Regions from separate parts of the Homo sapiens genome. Here region 2 is linked to region 1. The links come from fine-mapping of genetic effects on gene expression. Tissue or cell type: unexposed skin. Region 1 holds a variant in brackets; the other region holds the start of a gene. All regions are shown on one strand. Distances are between the middles of the regions.

Region 1 (8,000 bases):
AAAAGGGGGCGGGGACCCCAGGACGCGGGGGAGGGGCTGGATACGCAGGTATTTTTATTAAACAGATTATTCCTGAAATAATAATACGCGCAAGATGGCTGAAGGTGGCTGTGATGAGAGTGTTGGGGTTGGGATTTTTTTCTTCCTGTTTTTTCTTTTTTGATCTGAGGATAAAGCTCTGAGGCGACAGCGGCTGCGGAGACCCTGCCCGAAGCGCCCTCCCCTCCCTTGAGAAGCCGCGGGCAGACAGACGGACCTCGGACCGAGCAACGGGTGCGGGCCCGCCCCGGACGCGTCGCCTGGGCAGCAGCCGGGGACCGCGGGCTCTCGCCTTTCTGCCGACTTCTTCCAATTCTCATCTTCTTTTATTTTTTGGACAGGACCGGGGTGGGTGGAGCAGAGGTGGAGAGAAATCGGGACTTGGCATTTTCTCCCTCTCTCTCTCCTAATTTGTTGGAGGCCGCCAGCCCTCCCCTTGGAAAAAAAAAAATCCCACCAAAAAAAAAAAAAAAAGAATCAGGAGCGAGAGGACGCCGCGGGGCCCTCAGCGAGCGCGCCCAGACCCCGGCCGCCGCCGCGGAGCCCAAGATGGCTGGGCGCTGAGGGTGGCGGCTCGGCCTGGCCCCGCCGCCGCAGGCTGGCTCCGACCGCAGCCCCGAGCCTTCCAGGCCCCAGCAGAGGCCGAGAAGAAAAGAAAGTGGGGAGGAGGGGGCCGGGGGGGCGAAGGGGGAGGGCCGGGGGAGGGGAGGGGAGGGCCGGGAGCCGAGCCTCCTGTTCATTAGCAGTTGAGAAAAATTCCTTTCTAGTTTGATCAATCCTTGTTTTCCTCGGCAGAGCCCGGGCGCCCGCCCAGCGCGGAGACGGGCGCGCGGGGTCTCTCCGCGGCGGGGGCGCCGGGCCTCGGGGGAGCGCAGAAGTAGCCGCCCGGGGGTCAGGCCGGAGCGCCGCCGGGGCTTCTCCCTCCCTCCCTCGCCGGTTGCCTTTTTTTCCACTTCTCTCCCTCCCCCTTCCGTTTCTATTTGTGAAGGGAGGAGGAAGGCAGAGGCGGGCTGGTGTCTCTGGCCGGGGACTGGAATTTCATCTGAATGACTGCCCCTGCGCGCACGCAGCGCCCCGGAGTCGGCCCGCCCGCGCCCCGCAGCCCGCGCCCGGCCAGCCAGCCGGGGGACGCCTGCACCGTGGCCCGGGGACCGCCGGCCTGCCCCTCCCGCCCCGTCCGGATCTAGCAGCCCTCGGCGCGGCCGCCCTCGCCTCCTGGCCCCGCAGACCCCGGGCTCCGGCCCCTGCGAGGGAGGTGCGGCGCCGACGAGCCAGGCAGGAGCCGCCGCTGCCGCCGCCGCCGGAAGAAGTGTGCTGCTCCCAAGCTCCGTCTGCCGCGGGGCGCGCCCCAATGTCAGCCGCGGGGACGAGCGCAGGCCGCGGGCCGCCACTGCCCTAGCCGCGCCGACGGGGAGGCGGCCTCTTATATGGAATTTGGACCCCGGCGCTCCCCTCCAAGGCTGGAGTCCCGGCCGCGGCCCTGGCGCAGTCCGCCGCCTCCCGCTAGGCGCTCGGGAGGAGGAGGAGACGCAGCCCGCTGCGCGCGCGGCGTGAGGACCGCGGCTCCCTCCTCCGGGGGGCGGGCACGCGGAAGGCGCTGCTGACTGAGCGACCGTCGGGGCCGGCTGGGGCCGGAGCTCGGGGCTCGGTGGGCCTACAGCGGCTCCGGACGGACCCCCGGGGCTGGGGAGTCGGGGAGGCCTGCCCCGGCCCCCTGCCCGCGGCCGCCATGGCGGAGAATTGGAAGAACTGCTTCGAGGAGGAGCTCATCTGCCCTATCTGCCTGCACGTTTTCGTGGAGCCAGTGCAGCTGCCGTGCAAACACAACTTCTGCCGGGGCTGCATCGGCGAGGCGTGGGCCAAGGACAGCGGCCTCGTACGCTGCCCAGAGTGCAACCAGGCCTACAACCAGAAGCCGGGCCTGGAGAAGAACCTGAAGCTCACCAACATCGTGGAGAAGTTCAATGCCCTGCACGTGGAGAAGCCGCCGGCGGCGCTGCACTGCGTGTTCTGCCGCCGCGGCCCCCCGCTGCCCGCGCAGAAGGTCTGCCTGCGCTGCGAGGCGCCCTGCTGCCAGTCCCACGTGCAGACGCACCTGCAGCAGCCCTCCACCGCCCGCGGGCACCTCCTGGTGGAGGCGGACGACGTGCGGGCCTGGAGCTGCCCGCAGCACAACGCCTACCGCCTCTACCACTGCGAGGCCGAGCAGGTGGCCGTGTGCCAGTACTGCTGCTACTACAGCGGCGCGCATCAGGGACACTCGGTGTGCGACGTGGAGATCCGAAGGAATGAAATCCGGGCAAGTACCCTACGCGCGCGCGCGCACACACACACACACAGACACACAGTCCCTTCCTCTCTCCCGCCCCGGGACCACCCATCCCGACAGGCTGACTCTTGTGACATCAGGCCAGTGGCCCCTGGCCAAACTCTTCTCTGAAAGTTTGGGGACAGGGTCCTGGGAAGAAGGGCCCCGGGTCGCTACTTGGTACATTCTCGCACCTGTGCGCACAGGGTCCGTCTTCTGAGTGCTTTATGGGATTGGGGTGTGGGACCGTCAGGGGTAGAGTCTGGGTGTTGCTTTTCTGTGGTGCGCAGCTCCCTCCCCCAGTCTTGTTGCTGTAGGCCCTACGGGAAGTCACCGAGGCAGTGACCCCGGTCCTGCCTCTCCAGCTGCTGTTTATGTAATGAGTGTCCCGGTGCCGCTGCTGTGGCTGACATGATCCATGATGCTGGCATACCAATGAGGAAGTAAACAAAAGCAGCCATGTTAGTTTTCAGCGCTATTGGAAACACACTGGGGGGGGAGTGGGGGGAGTTTCCAGAGGGAGAGCAGAACTCCGGCCGTCTCTCTGGACAGGGCCTGGGCAGCCAGCGAGGCCCCGACAGCGGCTCCGCTATTTGGATTCCTCCCGAGAGCCGGCTCTCCCTGTGTGAGAATCGCTGCCCTGTGTGCCTGTGTGTCGCACGGGCCGCATGAACAAGCCTTCAAGTATCTGTCTTCATCATCCTGGCCCTTTCGCCTAGCACAGCCCTCTCGCCGCCCTCCCACATTTGGGGAGGGGAAGTGGAAGACGGAAAAAGAATCCTGTGGGTTTAAGGTTGAGCCGCCTTGAAATCTGGTTTCAGGCAGCTGGCTCCCCTGGGCTGCCGGCTGGGTGATTACGGAACCGCGTCCCCTCCCATTGTATACACCCTGCGGCC[G/A]CGGCCAATGTCAAACCGCCTCCCCCCTCAGGCCTCTGGGCCTGGTTTTGGAGCTGGACTGAGGCAATACTTCCGTCCCCTTCAGTGGAGGGGGCTCCTCCTAGGTCCCTCCCCAGTCCTCTGGCTTTCAGGGTTGAGTCATACCAAAATGAAGGGGTTGGCCTGACACCGAGGAGTCCTCTCTGAAGCCCCACCTTGGGGCCTGGGGCCTGGGTGTGATATCTGGGGGCTAGGCTGCACTCTGGTGGGACTGGGAGTGTCTCTGGGTGGGGATCCCTGGAGGTTAGTGGAGGCCAGTGCGGAGGCTGGCTATGAGGAAGCTCTGTTCAGGGCATGATTGGAGATGGGGCTGTTTCCTGTGTGGGGGGACCAGTCAGAATGAGTCACTGTTTAGCAATTAAAAAACATACACATACAACCAACAAAAGGCAGGAGGGCCACCACAGGCTGGGGCGGGGGCAGCAAATACGATTTGCTGTATAATTAGTTTCCAATCGGATGGACTAGCCCTGGGTTTGTGTGCCAGGATAGGCCTCTGGTTTCTTAAAGGAAGTGTGTCCTCCACCCCCTGTGTCCTCCATCCCCGTTCAGGGCAGGCACAGCCCACACTTTCCCCAGTATTGGGAAGCTGCTGCTATTAATAAAGATGGAAGGGCTGGGGGAGGAGGCCGGGAAAAGTGCAGAGGCAGGAGAAAGGAGGGCTGTCCAGTTCTGTCCTGGGATTGGCAGTGGAAAATGAGAGGAGGGGAAAGGAGATGTGGCTGAAAGGAACAGGGGAGGGGCAGCAACCTGGGCGATGGGCGGATGCCTGCCCGCACCCACAGTGCTGCTGTAGCTGGTCTGAGTTCTAGGGATGTCTTTAATTGGGGTGGGGGAGAAAACGTCATTATACCTGACTTGGTGTAGGAGGATAGCTTTAGGTGTCTGTGTTTTTGAATGTCTTTGAGACTGTGTGCTTCGCCCTCCAATGCACCTGTCTCCTGTCTCTACAGTTCAGGGCACAGGCAGGGGTGGGTGGGTGGCATGTGCATGCAGAGTATTCCCTGGGGTGCCCCCCAGCAGGCCCCTCATTTCCAGACTCGTGGATTGGATGGAAGCAGGCACTGAACTTTGTCGGCAACTCCGCAGGGTGTGTGTGTGCGTGTGTGCGTGTGTGTGCGTGCGCGTGCATGCGCGTGCTTTCTTGTGCCTGGTGTGGGCAGGCTCAGAAGTAGTGGGTTGCATCAGGGCCAGATGTGCAATTCTGTGCGTTCAGCAGCTGTGCCCTGCAGTGGCAGCCTGAGCCTCATCCTTCTCCAGGTTCCCCCTCCCCAGGCCCCTGATTCTTTCTGGTGCCCCAGGCCACTGGGGTTGGAAACCCTTCAGTAGCCCAGTGTCACTCAAGTATGAGTTTGACTTATTGAATGTGGAGGAATAGGGGCCCTGCCTGCCCTCCCAGGAGGGAGAGGAGGGGGTGAACCATAGGAACCTAAATGGAAGAACCCTCTGCACTCTCTGTAGGCCAAACAGGGGGAGTGGGTGGAGCGCTCTTCCTTGGCCCCTTTTCTCTTCCCGGAGGGAGTCTGCCTTAAAGGGCCTTTGCTGGTGTTGTGGGCGAGGGCCACAGAATTCCCCAGGATACAGGGGCAGAAGCACAGAGACCTGGCACCTGCCTTAAAATCTAGGCTCTGCTTCTTGTGCGTCCTCTTCTGCCCTCCCAGGGGGATTGCTGACATGCCTGTCAACTGGCTAGAAATAGGAAACTCTGATTAACCCCTCCCTGGTGGCCTCACCCTCATATACTTACAGCATCCACAGGTGCACATGGGCCATAGCCTAGAGCAGGGACCCAGCAGGAGAGCAAACAGGTCCTCCATCCATCCTGGGGAACTACAAGGGGGACTCTCAGAATCAGGCCCAAGCAGGTTGTTGCCCTAATCTTCCCTTGGGAAGCCAGTGTGTCGGCCACATTGCCGAGGCCTGGATACTCACTGGATGATCCCGAGACCATTGTCTAGGATGTGCCTAGATCCTAAATGTGCTCTCCCATGAGGCTGTGGGGAAGCTAAGGGCCCAAGATTTGGACATCCAGGTGGGCTCAGGCCTGGCAGTCCTGAGTGGTCAGACCCCTCCTAGCCCCCAGGTTCAGGGGTTCATCTAAGCATTGAAGGACTGGTGGGAGCTGGGGGGCATCCTTATCTCATGACCCCCCATGACATGGAAAGAAGACCCAAGAGCAGGCCCGGTTGCATGTGTGAGGGGCCTGCAGGTATGTGGTGCGTATGTGTCTATGCAGGTGTATCTGCTTGAGTCTTGTGCAGTTACGGTTGTGTTTCTGCATCGTCCCTGGTGTCCCAGAGCAAGGCCAGACATGTTGCTAGGGCCCTGTTCCTTGCATTTTCAGAGGTTCAGAGTCAAGAAGAGGTTCTCTGGGGGAGGAGATCCCACTGCTTGGGCCAGTGTGGGGTTTGCCCCTGCTTGGAGTGAGGGTATCCTGTGCACATTGCCGGTGGCTGGAGGGGTCACCCTGAGACCCTGGAGGGAATCCTGGGTTTCCTCTCCATTTATCTGTCTCTGAGTACGCAGTGAGAGTGAGGGCTGGCTCTACTGGGGCTGGTGCTGAGGCTGGGGCTGCAGCCTGACTCCAGCAGTGCAAACCTCACTGCTCCCTCTCCCTACAGCAGACCATACTCCTGCAGGGGTGTGTGTGTTTGTGTGCACGCACGTGTGTTTGTGGTGTGACGGTCATGTGGCCCCTTCTTTGGCCACCCCCGAGTCTTCGTGGAAGGAGGCCCTGGCTTGGCTTTCTCCGTTGCCCGTGAAAGGGAGCCTCAGGCAGAGGCCCAGCTGCCCACCCCTACCCCAGGATCCTGCTGACATGGCCAGGCACCTGTCATGCACACACTATTATTACTCTGCCTTCTGCGGCCCTGGGTGGCTGCACATCTGTGTCTGTCTGCAGGTGTGTGTGTGTGTGTGTGTGCGTGCATGTGTAGCCAGCACGTCTGGGTCGTGTATCTTGGATGTGACTGATCTTTTTGCATCTCACATGGGTGTCTCTGAGAAGGCGCAGCCTGCCTGACTTCAGTCCCTAGTTGCGCAGCCGTGTCTGCCTGCCGGGCTTGCTGAGCGCCTGCGAGTTGAAGTTGAGTGTGCCTTCCTGACAGTTGGCAGCACTACTGTGCTGCTGTGTGAGTGCCCGCTCAGGTGATCCTTGCTTGGTGGCTGTGAGTTTGTCAGGGGTCCTGGGACTTCCCCCTGTGGTGGGGTTGTTGGGGAAAGGAGGGAAAGATGGGCTTCCCCTTGGGGTGAGCCTGTGGCGGGTATTGGAGGCAGGAGCTGAAAGGGTCCTGCGCTGTTGTGTTGGGTGCAGTCTGGCGAGGCGGAGCAAGCCCGGCTTGGGCCCCTGCCCCGGGCCGAGCAGGCTGGCCTGGCTGGCCTCCTCCCTGGCTCTGGGAAAGCCTTCCTTTCCCGGCTGGCCTGGCATTCAAAGCCAGACAAAGGGGGGCTTTCTCTCTCGCCTCTTTGTTCTGCTGCCCCAGAGCGCTGCTCTCTGCATGGCAAAAGCTAATTCCACTCTGCAGCTGGGAAGCCCTCTCTGGGGTCTGCCGGGCTCGCATCTGAGGTGCTGCCTCTCTCCTTGCCCTGGCGCCTGCCCTGGAGCCCCTTCCCTCTGCAGCTTGTGGTTTCCCCAGCCTGGGGTTCAGTTCACATGATAGCCCAAGGCAGTGGCTTGAGGCATGGAAAGGGGGTTTAGGGCAGGCAGAAGCTTTTCTGAGGAAAGGGGAGAGTGCTATGAGCGCAGAGACCCAGGGAGAGATGGGGACAGGGACCAGGGGGAGGAGTAGGGGAGGGTTAGGATGGGGTGGCTCTGAGAAGGGGGCTGGAGCCAGAACTGGAGCTGGCCGGGCAGGGACCTAAGCAGGAAGAGGCTGCCCAGCCCCCTCTTCTTGCCCCTCCCACCACCACAGGGGCTTCTGGAGCTAGCCATGGTCTTGTCTGAAAACCTAGGGACTGCCTCTGTCCCAGTCCCTGGGGCCCTGTTTCCTCCTGACCTTGTTTCTCTTCAAGGTTGACTTGAGGGTTTTATTATTATTATTTATTAACTTTTATACAGCCCAGAGTCCCCAAGCCTCACCCGTCTGCCCAGTCTAGTCTGGCATCAAAAATGGCAGCTGGCCTGGCCAGTCAGTCTCCAGAGGGACATGAGGCTTTCCTGGGGCAGGAATGTAGGGGCTCAGGGTTCGCTGCTCCAGGCCGGGAGGGGAGTCAGAGGAAGCAGCGGCAAAGCTGAGGAGTGGGGGCCCAGGTGGTGGAGGGTGGGAATGGCGGCTCCTGATTCTTCATGCTTTTGTCCTCATAGGCCCCGGGCAGATCACCAAAGGCCTGAGGCCCGACAGGCAGGGCTGGGGGTGTGAAGGTCCTCCCTGGGCCCCACCTAGTCCCAGTCTCCCTGGTGGCCTGGGGCCTCCAGAGCTTCTAGCCCAGGCCACGTTCCACTCTGCTCTGCTCCTGCATGCTCCAGTGTACGCAGTCCAGGCCATGCACTGCTGTGGGGGGATGGGGCGGTGGCATGTGTAAGGTGCCTCCAGCCCACCTGCCTGCGCAGAGAGTACTTGCTCTGAACTGAGCTGGGAAATCTGGTCGGATCTCAGCTATGGGTTTTTCCCAGGTGGGAAGTGGGGCCTTGGCTCTTAGCCATTCCCTGGGGAGGCAGGTGGGGGTTGGGATGGAAAGGAGGCTGCTGGTGGTGGGGGGTCTGGGCCTTGCTTCCTCTG
Region 2 (8,133 bases), 140 kb before region 1:
CATGTAAAAATGTGGCAGATTTTCAGCAAATACTAATAGGAAAATGACTTAAGTTTCTCCTACTTCACCTTTTGGCAGAAATACTGGCATAATAAAGGACATGTTTTCCCAGAGGGGGAAAAAAAAGACAAGTCAATTCTTTAAATCTTGAAACTAAAAATGCATCACTGCTGTAATGCATTTCGAAACATACTACCAGGAAAGAGAAAGAAAAAAATTAAGACGCATTAGTGTAAGTGATATTAAAGAAAATGGCCGGAGATGGAACTCCTGCCTAGCAATTCAAGAAGCAAAGGAGCTGGTGGGATAGACAGGTTGTTCCTTCTGCATTGCTGATGAAAACAGGAAATTGAATTTCTATATATTTTTCCTTTTTACAACTAAGAAAAAGGCAGAAGAAGCACAAAGAGCCTGGCTAAAGACAGAAATCGTAGTGCTCTCTGAAAATCAACATCAAGAACAAAAAGTCCTACTCAATTATCTGCAGTAACTAACTAGAGAAAACTCCCCATCTTTTCTTTATTTAGGAATATCTTTGTTACTTTGATAGAGATATTCAGTCATTCATCCAATCACCCATCAATCCAATGAAAAAACATTTATTGAGCACACAGAGGTGCCAGACCCTAGGTATACTGTGTGTGTGTGGAGAGAAGTGGGTGAAGTGAGACTAAAGGAATATCATCTTTCTTAAATTTTTTTTCCCAACACCACTAAACCTGTGGGAGAATATCATCTTTTTCCACAAGGATTTAATAGTCTAGTGAGGGAGACAAAAAGATCCTCTCAAAAATGAAGTATCTGGGCTGGGTGTGGTGGCTCATGCTTGTAATCCCAGCACTTTGGGAGGCCAAGGCGGGTGGATCATTTGAGGTCAGGAGTTCAGGACAAGTCTGGCCAATATGGTGAAACCCCATCTCTACTAAAAATACAAAAATTAGGCCGGGCGCGGTGGCTGACGCCTGTAATACCAGCACTTTGGGAGGCCGAGGTGGGCGGATCACGAGGTCAGGAGATCGAGACCATCCTGGCTAACACGGTGAAACCCCATCTCTACTAAAAATACAAAAAATTAGCCGGGCGAGGTGACGGGCGCCTGTAGTCCCAGCTACTCGGGAGGCTGAGGCAGGAGAATGGCGTGAACCCGGGAGGCGGAGCTTGCAGTGAGCCGAGATCGCGCCACTGCACTCCAGCCTGGGCGACAGTGAGACTCCGTCTCAAAAACAAACAAACAAACAAACAAACAAACAAACAAACAAAAATTAGCCAGGCGTGGTGGTGCACATCTGTAATCCCAGCTACTTGGGAGTCTAGGCTGGAGAATCTCTTGAACCTGGAGGCGGAGGCTGCAGTGAGCTGAGATCGCACAATTGCACTCCAGCCTGGGTGACAAAGCGAGATCCTGTTCCCTCCACCCCCCCACACCAAAAAAAGAGGCGTCTCTGCCAGGCACGGTGGCTCAGGCCTATAATCCCAGCACTTTGGGAGGCCAAGGTAGGAGAATCGCAACAGCCCAGGAGTTTGAGACCAGCCTGGACAACATGGTGAAACCCTTCCTACAAAAAATACAAAAATTAGCCAGGGGTGGTGGCGCGTGCCTGCAGCCCCAGCTACTCGGGAGGCTTAAGCGGGAGGATCACTTGAGCCCAGGAGGTTGAGGCTGCAGTGAGCTGTGATCGCGCCACTGCATTTCAGACTCAGCAACAGAGCGAGACCCTGTCTCCAAAAAAAAAAAAGAAAAAAAAAATGAGCTGTCTCATTGAGCTCAATCCTGCCCCTTTCTAAGGGGGAATAATAAAAACAAAATACCCATGGAGAGAAGGAAAATTTAATGAAAACAACAACAAAAATATATTGGAAAAAGCAAGCAACTTGGAACTGGATCTTAGTCTGATGACTGGCTCCTCAATTCCTAAACTGGATGGTTTGAAATCTGTTATTTAACATCCCTGCATACACTGGGGATAGTAATTCCTATCTACCTAACAGAGCTGAAGCTTAAACGAGAACATTGTAATATGCCTAAGGTCCCAAGAGCTGAATCAACAAAGGGAATCTGACAGAGTCAGCTTACAACAGAGGGAACTGGTAGTTTTGCCTCAATGGAGGGACCTACAAGGGACACAGACAGGGATCAATCTCTGTGGGACCAAAGCTTTGAATCGAAGGCAGAAATGCAGTCGTTTTACAATTTTCTCCTTTCCCCCCAAAATAAGAGCAGTATTTAGATTCTTTCTATTGGTCAATATTGATGCTTCTGCATGGTGGTGCTGGCAAAAGGGATGACGGATAAAGTACTGGATTTAGGGCACCTCTGCTATGTGACCTTGGGCTCACGTTACGTCTTCGCGCTTCAGTTTTCTCATCGGTAACACGAAGATCAAAGTTCCTTTTAAACTATGCGTCCAGTTTTTGTGAGGATCCAACTCGAATGTATGTGAAAACGCCCTGGAAGCGCTAGAGCGCCAGGCAAATATTAAGTTTGGTAATTTTTTCCCCGTAAGAACTAGGCGTTCCAAAGAGGAGGACAACCTCTCTGCTTCCTTTGTCACTCTCCTTTCTTCTCGACCTTTACCAACTTTGTAATTTATAATCACAGTAATAGCTGACATCCTACAGCGGTTTCTGGCACCAGATTCTCGGGCCCCACCCAGATCCACACCACCAAGCCGCAGCGCCGGCTGAGACCGAAGGAAAACTTAGCCGTTCTCCACCCGCGGGCGGGCACTCGCCTCTAGGCCCCACCACCCAGAGTCCCGGAAGCCAATCCCCACAGCCCTGGAGCACTGCCCCGCCCCTTCAAGAGGGAAAACAATATGGCGGCAAGGAAGAATGGCAGGGGCGTGAGCCAATCACCGCAGAGGCCTAGCCTCATCCGGCAAGGCTAAGAGGCGGTATCATTGGCTAAGATGGACAGCCAGAGCAACCAATAGAGCGATCGGAAATGGGGGAGAGGGCGGGCGACGGGAATCTCACACAGCGGTTAAGGCCCCTAGAGCCAAGGGCCCAAGGACTGGCTTGGACTATAACTCTTTCCTTTATCCACTCCAGAGTTCTCCATCCCACTTTTGCTGGCTGGCCGCCTTGCCTGCGGACTATGTGATAAGGGGAGGAAGGAGGCGGCGGTGGCTGAACGCGCCTGACAGGCCGGGCCAGTGACAAAGAGCCGGCGGCTCAGGCTGAACCCCGGGAAGCGATCCTTTCGAGGAGGAGAGCCCAAGTCCCCTTATAGATAGGAAAGACGCAACTCACGTTGTCGATCACGACAGGCTGGTTGGCGATCACATCGTAGGACTCCATGGCAGAGGAATCTCTCCTTCTGGGGAAGGAACTGCCCAGCCGGGTCCGCCGCTAGCGCCACTGACACGCATGCGCAGTCTAGCCGCCGGTTCAGGGCGGCGAGGGAGCGGCCCGACCTCGCCTCTGAAGAACTACAATCCCCAGCAAGCTTTGCGCCTGGGTTAGCGATCTAGCTTGCTTTGTTGCCCGCCTAGTTTAAGATTGGGAGTCGCATTTCCAATGCGCAGTACCCTGGGATTTGTGGTCTCCCTAGATTAAACAGCCAGAGACACAGGTTGATGGTCATGTTGCATGCCTGGATCTGTAGTCCCTTTGAAGGAGTTCGCAGTGCATGCTGAGGTATGTAGTCTTCTCGAGTACTTGTCTGTAGTTCGGTTTGGATTGGTCGTAATTCATGGATGTTTGGATTTTGCAGATCAGCCCTGCCACTCCCCCCGACGTTCCCTTAGACAATATAAGGTTCTCATGTTTTTATTTGGGTCTGTAAGACTTTAATAAACATCTCCTAGCACCTCACACTCTAACAAAAAGGAAATGTTAACACACGTACGCGAGAGGACATATTCCTACAACAAAGGAAAACAATTTAAATTGCATAAAATTAGCTTTAAGTTTAAAAACCTGTACATTGTCGTTGCCTTTTGCATTTTCTTTTTTTCTGCATAACAGGCTAACATTGATCCGAAGATTGGCAATTGGAACTACTGGTATAGGTAATCTTTTGGTCATTAAAACATCATCTAAGGGTTTCAGAAACTGCTCGAGTATCTCTTTAATTTTCATAACGAGCTAGAATTGACACTGATGGTTGAGAAAATGGAGGTGAAGAGAGGTTATGTGTCACTGCTTTCAAATGAGCCCAGTGCATTTTTTTCTCTGGATTATGTTCTCCCCCAGCCCCCTTGAAATTTCAGGGACCTTTTTGTCAATAGCCCTAGAAAACATTAGATTTATTATCATCTATTAATACTAACGCCCCATGGATGAATGAATCAATCCATTGTCAGATTTATGTTTAAATCCTAGTTAGCAGCGCGTCAGCAAAACAGTAACAAATCCTTTGTTGGCGCACTTCTCGCTGCTTTCGTGGGACCTTAGCACCTCAGAGGGTGCTCAGCATCTCTAAACTTGGGTTCCTCCTAACACTAGGGGGAGACCAAGAGCCTTGGGACACTCCCAACACAGGGAGGGGAGGCGGGGCCTATTGTCAAGTCACACCTTCCCTGCCTGTGACTGGCACAGACATTAGCCAATGGGTGCTTGGATAGGGTGCGCCGGCGCCCCGCCCCCCTTAGCGCCCCGCCGCCCCGAGGCACCCTCTGGCAGACTCGGCGGCGGCGACAGCCTGGGCGGACAGTGCGCCGTGCGCAGGCGCGGAGCTAGACCTCGCTGCAGCCCCCATCGCCTCGGGGAGTCTCACCCACCGAGTCCGCCCGCTGGCCCGTCAGTGCTCTCCCCGTCGTTTGCCCTCTCCAGTTCCCCCAGTGCCTGCCCTACGCACCCCGATGGCGGAGCTGCGGCCTAGCGGCGCCCCCGGCCCCACCGCGCCCCCGGCCCCTGGCCCGACTGCCCCCCCGGCCTTCGCTTCGCTCTTTCCCCCGGGACTGCACGCCATCTACGGAGAGTGCCGCCGCCTTTACCCTGACCAGCCGAACCCGCTCCAGGTTACCGCTATCGTCAAGTACTGGTATGCTCTGGGCCGCGGGGAGACGGACAGGCGCGGGCTGGAAAGGGTTAAAGCGCCGAGGGCGAAGTAATTTGTGGGAGGTGGGAGGAGGGGTAGAGAATGGTTAAAGCACTCAGAAGGAGGGCTTCTTGCTGCGAGGGAAGGAGTTAAGGCTCAAGTTGGGAATGGGGACAAAGGGGTTAACGGAGCCCGTGGGTACTGAGGGGTTAACCGGGATTAGGAGAATAGAGTGAGGACTGGGGGTGTGTGTAGGAGCAGAGGGGGGAACGGCAGGAGCGAGGGAACTGTAAACGTGGTGAAAAGAGGGGGCGCCTGTAGGGGGTCATTAGTGGGCGAGGGGAAGCCAAGCGGGGGCGGCCGAAGTGGGATGGGAGAGGCGAGGCGGGGCCTGGGGAGCATTTGAGAGGGCTTTGGAGGAGCGAAGCCGAAGAAGCTCAGAGGGCACGAGACTGCATAGAATGGGGGGTTCGGGGGGCCCAGGGCTCTCCTGTGGTGGGTAGGAGGGCCAAAGATGAGGGCCTGGTGCTTGTGGAGAGAGGAGGAGGTCTCCTTTTGATACCTTCCCGATTAGCTCAGACGTCGTATCAGGGCAAAGCTTTTGCTTTTGAAGTTTGACGGAGCAGCTCTTCCTGATAAACTTTTTGCTTACTCTGCACTGTTCTCTTTCTCCGTGCAGAGCTTCCTCCTAGCTCTGCAGTTGCTTCGCTTTAGGGCATTAGGTAGAGAGAACCATGGTTTGGCTTAGGATTGAAGGGGCCGACAGCTTCCCACCTCCAGTTGGAAATAAATGGTGGAGACTCTGGGACCCCAGCAGGGAGGAATTGTGCAGTGGGACATTAAGAGGAGCTTCTCGGCCATGGCCTGCAGTTTCTCCGGGGAGCTGAGAGTAACCCTCAAGTAGCTTTAGGGTAGGAATGGTCTTTTCTAATTTCCCATTCCTGTTTGCAGCCTGTTTCTTCCTTCAGCATTTGGGCAGAACAGATGTTCTGGGGACTCTGGAAAAGAACCTGTCCTCAAAGTCTTGCTGGACCAAAAACTGAGATATTGGTTGAAACTGTCCAGGACCACATTCATGCAGGCATTGTGTAAGATGATCTTCAATGAGTCTTGAAAGACTGTTCTGCAGCTGCTTGGGGGTGTAGCCAAAGGGTAGACCTGAAGGGGCAAGTGGACATCTTTGCTGGTTACCTCTCCTTTTAGGACTGAGTCTTCCTCCTGGTGAAAACCTGTTGCTTCCCCTGGACATCGGTGTCAGTAGGCTGTGCAGGGCTGAGGCCAGCTGCCCGCATCAATGGGAGGATGCCAAGAGGCCAACAGCGTGGAGAGCCTGGGGACCAGCCACCTGCTGTCTAGGGAGGATTGTAGGGAACAGCCTCCTCTGTCAGAGTAGACGGGAGGAGGTGGAACTGGTGTCGCAGTCCTCTCTCACTGGCGAACTGTTCTCTGGTTGAGAGGAGTTGTTGAAGAGCGCTTCTGAGTGGAAAGCAGCTCTTGCTAGCTTAATGACCCATTCTCATTGTGCCTTTATATTTAACTATGTGTTGTGATGAACTTGTTGTCATGTGTCAGGAGAAAAGTGGGCCTGGGCTGGGCACAGTGGCTCATGCATGTATTCCCACCACTTTGGGAGGCCTTGAGGATCCCTTGAGGCCAGGAGTTCGAGACCAGTGTGGGGAGCGTAGCCAGACCCTAACTCTGTTATTTGAAAAAAAAAAAAAAAAAAAAAAAAAAAGAAGTGGGCCTGGCTCTGCCACGCTGTTTGTTCAGGCCTCATTTGAGTGTGAGGAGAAATCCCTACACAGATTCAGGCAACTATTTTTATGTCACCCAAGTAGCCATAAAGGATAGAATTGTATGTAAAAGGTATGAAAGCATGTGCAAAGGACTAAGGGCAATTTTTTTTTCCTTCCTGCTGCAAGCTTGTTAACAGCCATATCTTCAGAGATGGGCCAACATGTGATAATGAAGAAAAGGGATTATACAGCACTTTGTGAAAGCCCTTCCTAGATGCAGAAAAGTATAAAGAGAAACAGCACAGTGACTGGTACTTTCTTTTTTTTTTGAGACAGAGTTTTGCTCTGTCACCCAGGCTGGAGTGCAGTGGCACGATCTTGGCTTACTGCAACCTCTGTCTCCCGGTTTCAAGCGATTCTCGTGCCTCAGCCTCCCAAGTAGCTGATATTACAGGCACACGCCACCTTGCCCAGCTAATTTTTGTATTTTTAGTAGAGGCAGAGTTTCACCATGTTGGCCAGGCTGGTCTCGAACTCCTGACCTCAAGTGATCAACCCACCTCGGCCTCCCAAAGTGCTAGGATTACAGGCGTGAGCCAGTGCGACCAGCCATCAGTGACTGGTACTTTCTAAGATGTGGAGGGGTTTGCAAAAATAAGATCCTGAAATTCATTTATATTCCTCACATTTGGGATCCCACGAGGTTTCTAGCAGGATGACTGACCCAGGCTGTCTGGGTCTGTCTGTGGCCCAGGGTAGCTTGGGATTCATTTTGCAATAGCAGTGTGGCTCTGTGACTGGTGATCCCTGAGTAGTGGGGACATTCTAACTGAAAGCTGAGACTTTGGTGAGCAAGGATCAAAGCAGAGAGGCAGAACCTGTACTCATGGCCCACTTCAGTCCTGCAACTGCCCTGCAGAGAGAAGTTGGGTGTTCAAGGAATTAAGTTGAGGGATGCCCTGGGACCTTGGATAACATCATTTGCTAAGTGTAAAATGCGATTTTTTTCCACATACTCATCTGGCCTCTGAGTAGTAAGTAAACAGAATACTCTGTGCTTGGGGACAGGGTTAATTTTATCTGACTCTTGGTAGTTCCTTGCAGTTGGAGTTTGAAGGTTAAGCTTCTCTCCTTGATGTGACACCTTGTGGGAGACTTGGTGAGAAAGAGGGCTGCAGGGATGCTGCAGATGGAGCAGAGAATGGTAAACACAGTTTTGCAGCTTGGTGCAGGATGGACCTAGGCTGTAGCGGGGCAGGTTTGGAAATTTGCAGCAGGAAACTGGAGCAGGTATGGGGCCTGTAGTGGCTCTCATCTGCTCTGGAGTTCTGTAGCTCTAATGGGGTCTTTCCAGGGATCTCTACTCTTTTCTTTCTTCCCTTGCCCCACAAACTTTTCTAAATCCAACCTGTT

Direction of the effects. Alleles are on the strand shown, and positions count from the first base shown. SD is a standard deviation of normalised expression in the study named.
For the expression in unexposed skin of the gene that starts at base 4,625 in region 2, allele A in region 1 goes with a lower level than allele G (small effect, 0.16 SD a copy in GTEx).

Evidence for each region. PIP is the estimated chance that this variant, and not a neighbour inherited with it, causes the effect.
Region 2: SUFU starts here. The variant in region 1 is fine-mapped to the expression of SUFU in unexposed skin (GTEx, PIP 0.96).

The regions. Positions count from the first base shown.
Region 1 is chr10:102,642,850-102,650,849 of GRCh38, forward strand. It overlaps TRIM8 (tripartite motif containing 8), which reads left to right and starts at 1,630. Exons shown (of 6, transcript NM_030912.3): 1 at 1,630-2,338. The coding sequence starts at 1,769. It overlaps TRIM8-DT (TRIM8 divergent transcript), which reads right to left and starts at 340. Exons shown (of 1, transcript NR_186489.1): 1 at 1-340. LOC105378460 (a long non-coding RNA gene) reads right to left here. Exons shown (of 3, transcript XR_007062272.1): 3 at 7,307-8,000. RefSeq lists enhancers at 268-1,022, 1,023-1,778, 1,880-2,009, 2,790-2,889, 5,713-6,680 and 4 more and silencers at 290-349, 620-719, 800-1,779, 3,065-3,281. The variant G/A (reference allele first, on the strand shown) is at 3,244.
Region 2 is chr10:102,499,348-102,507,480 of GRCh38, forward strand. SUFU (SUFU negative regulator of hedgehog signaling) reads left to right here and starts at 4,625. Exons shown (of 12, transcript NM_016169.4): 1 at 4,625-4,987. The coding sequence starts at 4,806. ACTR1A (actin related protein 1A) reads right to left here and starts at 3,365. Exons shown (of 11, transcript NM_005736.4): 1 at 3,253-3,365. The coding sequence starts at 3,300. RefSeq lists enhancers at 1,349-1,849, 3,244-3,343, 5,812-6,312 and silencers at 3,694-3,763, 4,441-4,910, 5,225-5,519.